Linked DNA regions of Homo sapiens. The protein of the gene in region 1 purifies or fractionates together with the protein of each later gene. This does not show direct contact. Each region holds a gene or a part of one and is shown on either strand. Other genes may lie near its edges.

Region 1 (4,588 bases):
AGGAAGGGCAGGAAGAGCAGTGAGCAAAGGTGATAGAGCATTGGCCAGGTTTGAATCCTTAGCGCCCTACTGACTCAATACAGCCTCGGTTTCCTTATCTGTAAATCAGGAGAATAATTTGTACATGAGTCTGGCACGTAGGGAACATCATCATTGTTTGGATCTAGGGTCAGATGCTTTTAAATAGTCATGAGAAGCCCCTGATGTTTGCTTATGCAATCATTCATTCATTCATTTTGAGATCCCATGGAAAGCACTGTGCAAATCTTTGAATCAATGAATCAGTGAGTGAGTTAGTGAACCAGCAAGCTGAGCCCCAGCCATCGCTAGCCAAGCCCCTGCCTCCAGACAGAATGAGCAGGACACATTTGGGAAGCAGCAAGTCATCAGTGTGTTCAGTCCTTCAAGTATTTATTGAGCACATACTATGTATCAGATGCTGTGCTAGATGCAGGGGAGCAGGACCGACCAGGCCTCCACCCTCATGGAACTCATTGCCTGATGGCGGAGACAGGCCACTGACAAGGAAACAACCCAAAAAGCAAGGTCTTCCTAGGTGGGGTGAACGCGGTCAAGGAAATTAGCAGGGGACAGGATCAGAGGTCGCTTTGGATGGACTGGCCTGAAATGTCTCCCAAAGGAGGAGCTGGGAGGAGAGAGCCAGGCTGTTGAGAGAGCTGGCAAAAAGCCCTGACCCGAGCATGTGATGTGACAAGAACAGAAATGGGCCTGTCCTGAAGGAGCAGAGTGTAGGGAAAAGGACTCAGAAGGACAACCAGGGCCCAGATTACGCAGGGCCATGGAAAGGCCAAGCCCTAGGGCACTGGGAGCCCTTGGAGGGCTTGGGAGAGTGGGTCCCCAGTGGGTGGGCTAGAAGTCCTTGACTCAAGAAGAGACCCCTGTGTGCCTGGAGGAGTGAGGGAATGTGGCACCTGGATGGGTGTGGGGTAGAGGGAGTATTCCAAGCAGGCCTCGAATCTCTCAGACAGGAAAAGCCAAAGGGTGACCCAGACATGTCAGCCTCATAAAGACTTCCAGATAAGCACATGCCTCTCCAGGAGAAACCCACTGTGTCTCTTCCTGTGTTCAGGTTTCCCAACCTCTTTCCCCCACTGAAGCCGGAGACGGTGGCCCGGAGGACAGTGGAAGCTGTGCAGCTCAACCAGGCCCTCCTCCTCCTCCCATGGACAATGCATGCCCTCGTTATCTTGAAAAGGTATGGGGCTGGGAAAGAACACTCTGGGTCAGGGGAAAGTACGCATGTGATCTATTAGTCATGTCTGCTGCGGGCATGAGCATGAGGAGTGCTGGCACATTTGCTGCTGATGTACTGTACTTACTGTGGGGCAGCAGTTCTCAAACTTGTTAGTCACGGGGCCCCTTAGAGTTTTAAAAAGTATGGAGGAACCCAAAGAGCTTTTGTTAATGTGAGTTGTAGCTATCGCTATTTACTATATTAGAAATTAAAAGCCAGGGCCAGGCGCAGTGGCTCACGCCTGTAATCCTAGCACTTTGGGAGGCCGAGGCAGGTGGATCACGAGGTCAAGAGATTGAGACCATCCTGGCTAAAATGGCGAAACCTTGTCTCTACTAAAAATACAAAAAGAAAGTAGCTGGGCATGGTGGTGGGCGCCTGTAGTCTTAGCTACTCGGGAGGCTGAGGCAGGAGAATGGTGTGAACCCAGGAGGTGGAGCTTGCAGTGAGCCGAGATCGTGCCACTGCACTCCAGCCTGGGTGACTCAGCAAGACTCCATCTCAAAAAAGAAATTAAAAGCCAGAAAAATGTTGTAAGTTGTATACATTTGTTTATAATATTTATTCATTTATAAATAGCTATAACAAACCCATTACATTAATATAAATATATTTTTATGACAACTAGTTATGTATTCTAAAACAAAATAAATGTAGTCAGGAGTGGCATTGTTCTACCTTTTTGCAAATCTCTTTGTTTGGCTTAATTGAAGACAATTGGATTCTTATATGTGCATCTGATTTCAATTTGTTGTGATATCTCGTGTCACGTAGCCTCTGGAAAATTCTACCATTCACTGAGAGAATGAAAGTGAAAAGACAAATAACATCTTAGTATTATTACAGAAACAATGTGGCCGGGCACGGTGGCTCACGCCTGTAATCCCAGCACTTTGGGAGGCCGAGGTGGGTGGATCACCTGAGGTTGGGAGTTCGAGACCAGCCTGACCAACATGGAGAAACCCTGTCTGTACTAAAAATACAAAAAAAATTAGCTGGGTGTGGTGGCGTGTGCCTGTAATCCCAGCTACCTGGGAGGCTGAGGCAGGAAAATTGCCGGAACCCAGGAGGCAGAGGTTGAGGTGAGCCGAGATCGCACCACCGCACTCCAGCCTGGGCAACAAGAACAAGACTCCGTCTCAAAAAAAAAAAAAAAAAAAAATTGACCTCACAGACCCCTGAAGAGATCCCGGGTACCCCAAAGGTTCCTGGACCTCACTTTGAGAACCACTGTTCTACAGCCTATTGGACATAGCCCCTGCCCTCAGGAAGTTTACTATTAGAGGGAACATGGGGATCTTGATGCCAAGGGCTCAGAATTCACAGAAGCGTCTTAGTACCAGTCGGGTGGGATGTAGCAGGGCAGACCACTTTGGGGAGGCAGGCTTTATAAATGAGAGACTCCTCCTCCAGAATTTGCCTGGCATCCTATTCCCCTAGAACTTTCCAGGCTTTGTGCAGCAAATCCTTCCCATCCCAGTCCCACACTCAGTTTTCTTGGGCCTCTTAGTACAGCAGGAGATCCTTGTCCCTGGTGCCACAAGTGACCATGGGCTCTTGGCTCCCCTGGGGCTCTGGCCCCCTCCTGACTGAGCCCCTCTGACCTGGAAGTCCTTTTCAGGAAGGTAAGCCCCCAAGTGCCAGGCTGGCCCCTGCTCTCATGCAACATGCACTCCCAGGAAAGCCAACTTCTGCCCTGGCTGCTGGGACATGGTGAGCCCCAGCTGAGGGGCTGCCCCAACACATGCAGGGCACAGAAACCTCGAAACTGAGGCGCAAGCCCGATCAGCCCTCTCTTCCCCAAACTCAAAGCCCTTTCAGAGGCACAGGGAAGGGGGCACCCAGGGGCATCCAGGCCACACCTCGGCCTCCCTCAGTCCATCCTGACCTCGGGTCTGAGATGCTCCTCAGCCGTCTCTAGGAGCCCCTAGTTGATCAGGGGCTCAGGTCCTCACTGAGGTCAGGCTGCCACCCTCCACCTCAGGGGAGCTTCTTAGAAGACTTCCAGAGCTTTCTAGAGAAAAGTTGGTCTAGAACACCTCAGCGCTCTCCACAGTAAGCCCTCAGCCTTCATTTTCCAACCTTCCCCACAACTACTTTTGAACAGGAAGCAGGAGCCACCCCGCTCCCCATTCTCTGAACTGCATCCCTCCTCACCTTCCCCAGGAGAAAGCAAGGCTCAACTCTAATACCACCACCCCCAGGAAGCCTTCCAGATTGCTCCAGCTGGAAGTGAACCCTTTTCATCTTGTACTTAGAGTGGGCCAGGACCCTTCAGTTTGAGTCACCAAACAGCCTGAGGGCCCTCTCTGTGCCGGGCCCATGTGAGGGCCTGGGGATCAGAGATGAAATACCCGCCATGAAGGCCCCCACAGGCTTGACAAGTAAACGGGTGGGGACTACACCAGGGCTTGCTGGGGAAGCGTCGGAACTCCGGTTGTACGAGGAGAAGCCTGAAGGTGAGCCCAGGACGCTTCCCCAGAGGATGTGACACCCAAATCGAACCTGATTCCTCAGATCCACACCGTCATCTTTGTGGAATCAGGGGCAGTTGGGATCGATGGATCTCTGAGCTGCCTGTGGGCACCAAGATGCTAAGAGCCTGGTTTTGAAAGTGTGTTGTATGAAGGGAGAGAAGGTCAGCACTCCCCTCGACAAGGAGCACAGACAGATTAAGCCATTGTCACCTACTTAGTGGCACCTAACCATCATTTGTTTTTAATGGGTACAAAAAATAGACCGAATAAGAACAAGTCTTTGATAGCACAGCAGGGTGACTATAGTTAATAATAATTTAATTGTACGATTAAAAATAACTAAAAGGGCCGGGCGCAGTGGCTCACGCCTATAATCCCAGCACTTTGGAAGGCCGAGGCAGGCAGATCACCTGAGGTCAGGAGTTCAAGACCAGCCTGGCCAACATGGCGAAACCCTGTCTCTACTAAAAATACAGAAATTAGGCGGGCATGGTGGCGCATGCCTGTAATTCCAGCTTCTCAGGAGGCTCAGGCAGGAAAATCACTTGAACCCAGGAAGCAGAGGTTGCAGTGACCCCAGATCGCACCACTGCACTCCAGCCTGGGCAACAGAGTGAGACTCTGTCTCAAAAAAATATAATAAACATAAAAATAAATAAAAAAACTAAAAGAGTATAGTTGGATTGTTTGTAACACAACAGATAAATGCTTGAGGTGATGGATACCCCATTTATGCTGATGTGATTATTATACATTTGCATGCCTGTATCAAAGTATTTCATGTACCCCATAAATATATATACCTACTATGTACCCACAAAAATTAAAAATAAAAAAATGAGCTCTGTTTCAGGAT
Region 2 (3,500 bases), on another chromosome or scaffold:
ACCACACTTGAGATAAGTTCCTTCTGACTCGGGTAGCTAACCCACATGTGGACTATGTGGACATATAGGTATATATGCAGGAGACTAATTCTCAACCAACTTACCCTCTCACTAGATTTACAAGTGTGGGCTTACCAAAATTGTCTCTAACCTATGTCACCCAGCCCTTTTTCCAGTCAGAGATATCGGCCCTGTGGCAGTTGCTAGGTGACCCAAGCAGGACCAATAAAATTCATTCATCCTCATTCTCTCTCTCTCTGTCTCTCTCCCTCTGTCCCTCTCTCCCTTTGTCTGTCTCTCTCTTATCTCTCTCTTTCTCTCTCATCATTTAAAATTTGAATTGTAGCTGGGATTATTAATAACTGAGTCTTTTTTGATGCAGGGCCCCAGAAAGAGTTTATGAATTCCTGTTATTGAAATTCTACCCTGGTTCCCATAGGCTTCGTTGTTCAACTTACTAATTTCATATGATCGCTGCTTTTTTTCTTTTTCCAATAAATTCCTTTTATAGACTCTTAAAGTTGGTTTTGGATACTTGTTCCCAATCAAAAAACGCATATATAATAGAAGTAGTGTGTTCTGAGGCAGAAGAAGAAAGAAACAGGGAGAAAGGGATGTAGCTAGAGTGAAAGTTTAAAGGTGATACCATTAACCAAATATAAATATAATTAAAGAAATCATTATTTCCTTCTGGACACCAGTTTATTTTCAAATTTCTAGTTAACACACCTTTCTATTGCAGTCTACATGAGCCCTTTGTATAAAAGTATTTTGGGAAAATATGTACAATACTAATTTTTTTATGCTAAACTTTTGGCTTCTAGGAAAAATAGGATTTCTTAGACTAACTTGATCCAGTTATTATACTTTAAAGTATTTCTAAATGTTATCCATATGTTTAAAAACTCAGTTTCTTTGGTTTGTAGAATTCTGTGCTTATAGGAGAATCTGTTAAATTTTGTTGTTTTAAAGTGGTAATTTATCCCAGTCATGCCCAGGGACACAGAAGAACTATAATGTCCTTTGTGGAGATCTTGAGGGCTCAAAAGATTATGGCATTTAGAGTTGAGTTTGGAAAGGTTTAGGATTACATATCACCTCTCTAATCAAGGTTTATTCCTGTTGTATTGAGGAGCCCTGAAGTCAGGTTGTGGAAATGGTGATCAAGGGATCATCTTTGAAATGTGCTTCCCCCAACCAAACTGTATCTACATTTTCAGTCTCCCAACCAGCCCTGCATTTTCTCTCCACTCTTCTGCCTGACTGGGCCCTCATGTGATGGATGTGAGCACAGCATGCCTGGCCATCTTAGTGCTGAGAACCCAGTTTGGAGGTGAAGTGGGGGTGGGTATAGAGGGGGAGGCAGCAAACTTAGCAAATGGAGAAGAAAAGAGATCTAAATGTGAGGAAAAGACTAAAACAGAAAAAGATAAAAAGAAAAACAGTGGGTATTTCTAATGCATTTGAAGTGATCCTTGGGTCTTGTAACACTTTGAATATTGGCTTATCTAAATTCTGTCACTGAAGTTTTCAAAGGAAATAATAAACAGATACTATGTTCCCATCCATTAGCATGGTTAATATTTACTCTGAGCCGTGCCCGGCTCATGCCTGTAATCCCAACACTTTGAGAGGCCGAGGTGGGTGGATCACTTGAGCTCAGCAGTTCAAGACCAGCCTGGGCAACATGGTGAAACCTTGTCTCTACTAAAAATTCAAAAGTGAGCCAGGCGTGGTGGCATGCAACTGTAGTCCCAGCTACTTGAGAGGCTGAGACAGGAGAATTGCTTGAACCTGGGAGGCGGAGGTTGCAGTGAGTCGAGATCACACCACTGCACTCCAGTCTGGATGGCAGCAAGACTCCATCTCAAAAAACAAACAAACAAAAAATTTACTCTGTAGAGTATGGGAATCAGGTGGAAATGGGGAATGTGTGTATTCTATACAGAGAGCAAGAGTACTTCTTGTTTGCTTAGAGCCATGAATACTTTAGTGCTCGATCTATGAAATTCCTTAATTAATAATACTTACATTTCAAAAACACATTGTTTGCAAAACACTTTTATTGTTATCTCTTTATTTGAGACTCACACCAACCTAATTTTAAGAAGAAAAGGTAAGACAGGATTTGGAGGTTCTTTTTATGTACCCACTACACAGATGAATATACTAGGCTCAGAAAGGTTAAATTACTTACCCAACATCACATGACAAGCAATTGGCAGAACCAGGTCTAGAACCCAGGGAAAGGATTTATTCCACTACAAAGACATGAAACAGGACATTAAACAAACAACATCTAAGAAAATAAGATCTGTAAATAATTAAGGATAGGAAATCTGGAAGATCACATTCCCGTGCTAAACCTGAATGAAATGACTGCAAGTGTGTCTCTCTGATCTAAGCAGACAGGAGAGGGAATTGAACTTTGACTACATCCACCTTGTGAGGGGGACCAATAGAGCTGAGCTTGCATTTACACAAAGCCCACGCTGAATAAGTAATCAGAAATGGTCGTCTGTCCCAGAACATCTCCCCTAATGACCCATCATGATGCTCCTTCCCTTCCTACATTTATTACTTCAACAAATATTTATTGAGAATCTAAGATGTGCCAGACATAGCTTAAAATACCTGTTTTGTCTATAAGTACTTTTTAGAAAGTTTGAAGAAACACACTTTTTCTTAAAGTTCTCCTTCCATAGCCTCACCCACTAAACACTAACATGAACTGGTATTACTTAATCAGAAAAACTCTACCTGGGTCTGACAGGAGGAGAAAATAATAGAAAAACTCAATGCCAAAGAGATTGGGAGCAGTAAGCAAGATATCAAGTGAGGGTATGGCAATTGACAAATACTACTGAACCTTACCAGTTGAAGACAAACTTCACTTACAAATTATTTAGTCTTTCTGCTGTTCTCAAGGACATGCCAATTCAGTCAGAGAAAATACACTACTTAGCGTCTGGCAAGAGTGTTTTCATGGAAAACAGTGGTTGCAATTTGTTCCATGCTGGGCACAATAGGACTACTTCAGAACCCAAGTCCCTTCAGTCTATTTAAACCTAAGAAAAATCCAATTCATCTGGTACTAACATTCCTTTAACAGTCATTTGAGGGACTACTTACCATTCACCCTCCCTATACCTCCAATCATGATTTATCTTTGTGAAATATTATTATGTGGATACTTCAGACGGAAGAAAAGAAATCCAAATGAAGGTAAAATTAATTTTTGAGCACACACACCTAAGCACAGGCCAGCACTACATGCATTTAAAGAAAAAAATATTGCTACTCTTAGTTGATTTATTTCATGGATCACACAGATTGATTTACGGTCTATTTGTAAGAGTTGTGAAGCAAAGCAGTGAGTGCAAGTACTTGGAGCCTCAAAGTAAGGGCATGTGAAGATCCAGAGTTGTGGTAACCAGAGAGGGTGGGGCTGTAATGTTGGTTGTTGGACGAGGAGGACATGGAGGGGAGATAGTGCCAGC

The links. The genes of interacting proteins can lie anywhere in the genome.
Region 2: the proteins of DHRS3 (region 1) and GAP43 purify together in Homo sapiens (affinity purification with mass spectrometry; one large-scale study listed by BioGRID and IntAct). This does not show direct contact.

Annotation. Positions count from the first base shown.
Region 1 is NC_000001.11:12,569,356-12,573,943, reverse strand, and holds part of DHRS3 (short-chain dehydrogenase/reductase 3), read left to right. Parts: intron 1-1,090; coding exon 1,091-1,216; intron 1,217-4,588. UniProt on the Homo sapiens protein: Catalyzes the reduction of all-trans-retinal to all-trans-retinol in the presence of NADPH.
Region 2 is NC_000003.12:115,630,010-115,633,509, reverse strand, and holds part of GAP43 (neuromodulin), read right to left. Parts: intron 1-3,500. UniProt on the Homo sapiens protein: This protein is associated with nerve growth. It is a major component of the motile 'growth cones' that form the tips of elongating axons. Plays a role in axonal and dendritic filopodia induction.